Linked DNA regions of Homo sapiens. The protein of the gene in region 2 purifies or fractionates together with the protein of the main gene of each other region. This does not show direct contact. Each region holds a gene or a part of one and is shown on either strand. Other genes may lie near its edges. The genes, in order: CCDC92 and PARL.

The links.
Region 1: the proteins of PARL (region 2) and CCDC92 purify together in Homo sapiens (affinity purification with mass spectrometry; one large-scale study listed by BioGRID and IntAct). This does not show direct contact.

The regions. Positions count from the first base shown.
Region 1 is NC_000012.12:123,945,066-123,948,879, forward strand, and holds part of CCDC92 (coiled-coil domain-containing protein 92), read right to left. Parts: exon of another isoform or gene 639-3,814; intron 1-638.
Region 2 is NC_000003.12:183,878,321-183,882,134, reverse strand, and holds part of PARL (presenilin-associated rhomboid-like protein, mitochondrial isoform 1 precursor), read left to right. Parts: intron 1-3,814. UniProt on the Homo sapiens protein: Required for the control of apoptosis during postnatal growth. Essential for proteolytic processing of an antiapoptotic form of OPA1 which prevents the release of mitochondrial cytochrome c in response to intrinsic apoptotic signals.

The DNA.
Region 1 (3,814 bases), on a different chromosome or scaffold from region 2:
CAGTTTGCAGTTGGAAAAGACTAGAAACAAACTCAAAACCCGACAATAGGGAGTGGGTTAAATAACTTAAGGCGACCATTTCTAGGCATGTTTCTATAAAACAAAGCATAGCTCTCCCTGGCCTTTGACTGCCGTCGCACTGGGCTGCAGATGATGGCAGAGTTGAGTTTCCATCAAGCAGGGCTTTCCTCAGTGGAGCCGTGAGCAGCATTCCGGCAGGAGTGAGAAAGGATGTTTCTGTCCCCGAAACCGTCTCTGTGCTGTAACCGCAAACTCTCCTGTGTAGGCTGCTGGGCCAGACACTAGTTTCTAAGTGGAACCCCACAGTTCCCGAGATCCCAACACTGTCTGCACAGCACGTGGTCTTGGGGGGCGCTGACCTTAACAAAGGAGCCAGCTACAACCAAGGCAGGTTCAGCGTGTGGCACACGTGTGCCGCGTGCTTGCTGTGGAAAGGGTGAGCACCTTCTGACCTTGCCCTTCCCTCACAAAGCAGAACGCTTGAAAGCGGAACAGCCTCAGCGTCAAAGGAAGGAAAATCCCAGGAGCGCCTGAGAGCTGTCAGTAGCGGTGCCTACGTTTTCCTTCCACTCAGCAATCCGGAGTCGTTCACTCTGGCATCAATTCCAGCACCTCACCTGGAGGCTGAATCCCGAAGAGCTGAAAGGGGTTTGGAAGTGGGAACTCTAGCAGAGATGCTTTCAAAGGACAGACTCAAATCCAGGATTCTGTTGGCTGATGGAAGAAGCAGAGCCCATATGTTAGTGGCTTGCTGTCAAAGAGAAAGAACCATTTAAATGTGATCCAGAATTTAGTGGGTCTTGGATGACAGGAGAGCTGCCCTAGGCCTAGTGTCCTACCCCTCACAAGCACTGTCCCCAGCTGCACAACCTGGGGGTGGCCTTGACGCTGGCATCCCCCGCCATCCATTTCCAGTCCATGATGATCTTGCTGGCATCCTGCTTTGAAAGCAGCTCTCAGATCCGTTCAACTCTCCCCGTCTCCGCTGCTGAGGCCGTCCTCACCCTCACCCAAATCCCTGCCAGAAAGCCTCCCTCTGTCCTCTCCTACCTGCTCCATTCTGCTCTCCACGTGGCAGCAGAGTGATCTTGTTTTTAAATTGAGACTACTTAAAAACCTCCAATGGTTCCCACTGCTCTGAGAATCAGACTGGTCTGCCCGGCCCTGCAACTGGCCCCGCCACCCTCGCTGGCCCTTCTCCTACCCCCAGGGCTCCAGGTGGCACGAGCTTTCCTCCGGGTGCCCTGCTGGGCTGTGCTTCTCCCACCCTGGTGCCCTCTCATGGCTCCTCCTCTGCCCAGAACACTCTTCTTAGGCCTCTCTCCCACCCACCTCTCCTGGGTCTCCACTGTCTACTTATCCTTTAGGTCTCAGTACAAGTTTACTTCCTCCCGGAAGCCCTGGCCCCCAGACTCGGGTGCATTACCACCCTGTCCCCAGTTCTAGTCTTTGTGTCTCTGTGAGGGTCTGTAAGTGTGGGTCTGTTTCCCGCCTCCTCGCACAGACTCCAGATTGTTCACTGCTGCACCCTAAGCCCTAGCACAGTGCCTGGCACCCTGGAGGCCCACGAATGGGCCTGGTGCCAGTCTGTTGAGTGCAGCTGTGGTGCCAGAGGAATGTAAGGGCTTCAGGGTTGAAAAGCTTTTGTTTCCATGGGCTTCCTATTTAGGTGCTTCTGAGAAGTGACAGCCTGCTGGCAGTCCTCACAGCCCTCGCTTGCTCTCAGCACCTCCTCTGCCTGGGCTCCCACTTTGGCGGCACTTGAGGAGCCCTTCAGCCCACCGCTGCACTGTGGGAGCCCCTTTCTGGGCTGGCCAAGGCCGGAGCCCGCTCCCTCAGCTTGCAGGGAGGTGTGGAGGGAGAGGCGCAAGCAGAACCGGGGCTGCGTGCGGCGGCGCTTGCAGGCCAGCTGGAGTTCTGGGTGGGCGTGGGCTTGGCGGGCCCCGCACTCAGAGCAGCCAGCGGGCCGGCCCTGCCAGCCCTGCCGGCCCCGGGCAATGAGGGGCTTAGCACCCAGGCCAGCAGCTGCAGAGGGTGTACTGGGTCCCCTAGCAGTGCCAGCCCACCAGCGCTGCACTCAATTTCTCACCAGGCCTTAGCTGCCTTCCCGCAGGGCAGGGCTCGGGACCTGCAGCCTGCCATGCCTGAGCCTCCCACCCACTCCATGGGCTCCTGTGCTGCCCGAGCCTCCCCGACCAGTGCCGCTCCCTGCTCCATGGTGCCCAATCCCATCGACCACCCAAGGGCTGAGGAGTGCAAACGTACGGCGCGGGACTGGCAGGCAGCTCCACCTGCAGCCCCGGTGTGGGATCCACTGGGTGAAGCCAGCCGGGCTCCTGAGTCTGGTGGGGACGTGGGGAACCTTTATGTCTAGCTCAGGGATTGTAAATACACCAATTGGCACTCTGTATCTAGCTCAAGGTTTGTAAACACACCAATCAGCACCCTGTGTCTAGCTCAGGGTTTGTGAATGCACCAATCGACACTCTGTATCTAGCTACTCTGGTGGGGCCTTGGAGAACCTTTGTGTGGATACTCTGTATCTAACTAATCTGATGGGGAGGTGGTGAACCTTTGTGTCTAGCTCAGGGATTGTAAACACACCAATCAGCACCCTGTCAAAACAGGCCACTGGGCTCTACCAATTAGCAGGATGTGGGTGGGGCCAGATAAGAAAATAAAAGCAGGCTGCCCGAGCCAGCAGTGGCAACCCGCTCGGGTCCCCTTCCACACTGTGGAAGCTTTGTTCTTTCGCTCTTTGCAATAAATCTTGCTACTGCTCACTCTTTGTGTCCACGCTGCTTTTATGAGCTGTAACACTCACTGCGAAGGTCTGCAGCTTCACTCCTGAGCCAGTGAGACCGCGAACCCACCAGAAGGAAGAAACTCCGAACACATCCGAACATCAGAAGGAACAAACTCCAGATGCGCCACCTTAAGAGCTGTAACACTCACGGCGAGGGTCTGCGGCTTCATTCTTGAAGTCAGTGAGACCAAGAACCCACCAATTCCGGACACACTTCCTTTACAGGCACACCTTGCTCAAAGAAAACGGGATATACTAAAACATCCCGAAATGAGATGACCACCTCACCCGCCATGATGGCACAAAATGGGATGTGCCTATATGTAGATGTCAGTATTTTCTTCTACGCTCTCCCACGGGGGCAGAGGGGAATGGAGTACAAATGTTATCAGCAGCCATCTCTATCATAGTGTGGTATTACATTTCATTTGTAACAAATTTAAATATGATTTAGTAAGTATTCATACTCTAACTGCCTTGGTCAATCAGCAACTTTGAATTATAACAACGCTGTGTGTCATTAATCCACTCTGTTAACTGCAGAAATACAAAAGCGTCCTTAAAGCGTCCCATTATAATGGGCAGACAGCCTGGAGAAGAAACGGCAGGCGAGCAGGGAGAGTGTGACCATGTAACGCGCAGAGCTCCACAGTGAGCGCTGGTGAGCCACTCGGAGCCCTCACAGTGGGGGACAAGGGTCTCCTGGCCTGGGGCATTTCACTGACTGTCGCTCTCCCCTTCTTCCACACTCTGTGCTGACTGAAAAGGCCCTGACATGGAGACGCCATCTGTGCAGGGCATTCTACAGCTGTTAGGATATTCCTGAATAAGGCAGGTCCACTTGGGGCCAGGGAAACAAAACACATCTCCAAATGGCATCCAGATTACTCAATTATTTTCTCATCAGCTCAAAAGAGTAACAATATCACTGGCTTTCTGAGGGCAAAAGAGTTTTCACGGCTGAAAAGACAGTGGTGTTTTCCATTG
Region 2 (3,814 bases):
CCTCCCGGGTTCAAGCGATTCTCCTGCCTCAGCCTCCCGAGTAGCTGGGATTACAGGCATGCACCACCATGATGCCTAGCTAAGTTTTGTGTTTTTTGTAGAGACGGGGTTTTGCTGTGTTGGCCAGGCTGGTCTCGAACTCCTGGTCTCAAGTGATCTGCCTGCCTCTGCCTCCCAGTGTTGGGATTACAGGCTTGAGTCACCATGCCTAGCCTCAAAATATCTTTAAGTAAGATACTTGACATATTAGTCAATCGTATATATTATATTTTGTTTTAACTGACCATCTATTAACTCACGATGGGGTCAAGAAAATAATTTTGTTATGCCAGAGTTTATGTAGAATCCATCCTCCCGCCCAGTATCTTTTGTATTTTTTAGAGGCGAGTTGTTCTGTCACCTAGGTTGAAGTGCAGTGGCACTATCATAGCTCACTGCAGCCTCAAACTCCTGGGTTCAAGGGATCCCCCTGCGTCAGCCTGCCTGGTAGCAAGGACTACAGGTACACACTACCATGCCTCGGGCTCTATTTTGTTTTAAGTGGAATGAATCTAATCAATTGTGTGTGCTTAGACACATTTTGTCTCCATTTGAACATTAGGCCATTTCTACTTAATTTGTTCATACAAATCTTGAGTAACATAAACATTAACACTGACCTGTATATTTAAGTTGTATTGTCTTTACCGTTGCACTCTTAAAAACAATGCACAGGCTGGGCATAGTGGCTCACGCCTGTAATCCCAGCACTTTGGGAGGCCGAGGCGGGTGGATCACCTGAGGTCAGGAGTTCTAGACCAGCCTGGCCAACATGGTGAAAACCCGTCTCTACTAAAAATACAAAAATTAGCCAGGCACGGTGGCAGGGGCCTGTAATCCCAGCTACTCGGGGGGCCGAGGCAGGAGAATCCCTTGAACCCAGGAGGCAGAGGTTGCAGTGAGCCGAGATTGCATCACTGTACTCCAGCCTGGGGGACAAGAGCAAGACTTCATCTGAAAAAAAAAAAAAAAAATGCACAAAGGCTGTGCGGTGGCACAGGCCTGCAGTCCCAGCACTTTGGGAGGCTGAGGCAGGAAGATCACTTGAGTCTAGGAGTTTGAGACCAGCCTGGGCAATATAGGGAGACTCCTGTCTCTACAAAAAGTAAAAAAAATTAGTGGGTATGGTGGTGCTGCCTCTGGTCCCAGCCACGTGGGAGGCTAAGGGAGGAGGATTGCTTGAGGCCGGAAGGTGAAGGTTGCTGTGAGCTATGAGGGCGCCACTGTCCTCCAGCCTGAGTGAGAGAGTGCAACCCTGTCTCAAAAAAAGACCCAAAAAATAAAAAACCAAAACATTTATGAGACTGTATTGTAACTATTAGGTGAACACATATATTGGTGTAACTTTTTCTTCTTAAAAGTTATAGGATTGTATTAAAAAAAAAGTCTGAGCTGGCCAGGCACAGTGGCTCATGCCTGTAATCCCAGCACTTTGGGAGGCTGAGGTGGGTGGATCACCTGAGGTCAGGAGTTCGAGACCACCCTGGCCAACGTGGTGAAACCCCCTCTCTACTAAAAACACAAAAATTAGCCAGGTGTGGTGGCAGGCGCCTGTAATCTCAGCTACTTGGGAGGCTGAGGAAGGAGAATCGCCTGAACCCGGGAAGCGGAGGTTGCAGTGAGCCGAGATCACGGCATTACACTCCAACCTGGGCAGCAGGAGCAAAACTGTGTCTTAAAAACGGAAAAAAAAAAACTGAACTATAACTGTGGCTGGTGGCAACTTAAGTATTCATGACATCCTCCCACTTTGAGCACATTTGATTGCTTCCCCAAATCACTAGTTCCTGGCAGAAGGACCAAAGCAGCAGAGTCAAGGCAGGCCTGCTGTCGTGAGTTGTCATATGCCTCAAGGGACCCTCTTTCCCATCCCCATCCATTTTATTGCGGCGCTTCACTTTGTTTTCCAACTTATTCAGGTAAGTAATTTATTTCCCTGTCTTATATACCCATCTGATTGGGAAGAGGTGAATAACCTAAACCTGTGAATAAGATAGCAAACATTTGCAATTAGGGACATTTATCATGCTTTTGCTTGTTTCACACTTTAAGAAATTTAAGGCTGGGTGCAGTGGCTCACTCCTGTAATCCTTTGGGAGCACTTTGGGAGGCCGAGGCAGGCAGATCACCTGAGGTCAGGAGTTCGAGACCAGCCTGGCCAATATGGCGAAACCCTGTCTCTACTAAAAATACAAAAAAAAAAAAAAAAAAAAAAATCAGTCCTGGTGGCAGGCATCTGTAATCCCAGCTACTTGGGAGGCTGAGGCAGGGGAATCACTTGAACTCTAGAGGCGAAGGTTGCAGTGAGTTGAGATGGTGCCACTGCACTCCAGCCTGGGTGACAGAGCGAGGACCTCCCCCCGCCCACCAAAAAAAGGAAATTTAAAATGAAAGCTCATTAAAAAGAGAAAATGTACCTTATATAATATGTAATAAACATACTACATCTAAAAGCATCCTTATTCCAATAGAAAACCAAACTCTTAACTGACCTAAACAATTAGGGGAATTTATTGGTTTATGAAGTTCAAAAGTGTAGAGGTAGGACTGGCTTCTAGCGAGACAAGTCCAGTGTCTCAAATTGTCACCAGACACCATTTTCTCCATGGCTTGTCTCTGTTTCCTAAATGTTGGCTTTATTCTCTCAGCATGCTATCTCCTTGTGGTTATAAGATGGCTGCCAGCAGCTCTTGGGGCTATATATTTTTAGGTGCAAATCTAGCAGAAAAAAAAGTTGTCTTCTCCGTTATCACAAACAAAATCTTGAAATTGAATTTCACTGGACCAGATTGGCCTAACTTGGGACAGGTGCCCATCCTTGAATCCCTTGAAGTTGCCAAGGAATGGGATGTGAAATTTGGCTTAAGCCAATCGTGGGCTTGGTGTGTCTCATCAAATGAAATGGCTGGAAATTCTAGAGTATGGTTTGGAAAAGGAGAAGAGGGCATGGATGCTGGGAGTAAGTCGTAGTGAAACATTTGTATTGGAATTCTTTATTTGGTTACCTAGATAGGATTAATCTGTGGGACAACAAACCATTCTAATTTAAGTACAAGTATTGTTGGAAGAGTGAGGAATCAGGTTCTAGCTCCTTGCTATTCCAAGTGGTTCATGAACTAGCAGTTTGGGTATCATCTAGGACAGGGGTTTGGCAAACTTAGTTTGTAAAAGGTCAGATAGAAAATATGGCCGCATGTGGTCTTTGTCGCATATTCTTTCTCTTTCTTTTTAAACAACTCTTTAAACGTGTGAAAACCATTCTTAGTTGGAGACTCAAATCCACTCTATAGGCCGCAGTTTGACAACCCCTAATTTAGGCGCTTGTTTAGATATGCAAAATCTCAGACTCACCTTGCCCCAGACCTACTAAATTACAATGTTTTTAATGAGATTTCCAGGTGATTTGTATGTAAACTAAAGTTTCCCCAAACCTGTGGTATGAATAGATCTTGACTCTGGCGGCACATGAGAATCACCTGGGGAGGTCTTACAACTACTAAGGCCTTGGGTCCACTCCTAGACATTCTCATTTGTTATGAGGTAGAGCCATGGTGTAGGACTTTTAAGAGCTCACCAGGCAGTTCTAATGTATAGCCAGAATTGAGAATTACTGCTCTAGACTAGGAAGCATAACTGCCTCTGCCACATCTAGTGTGGTAGATAAAACACCATGGCCACAATATTTTGTAGTTCTTATCCAAAGCTGGAGTCAACTTCCCTATTCCTTGCAGCTGGGTTGGACTTGCGGCTTAGTTTGATCGGTAGCATGTGGTGG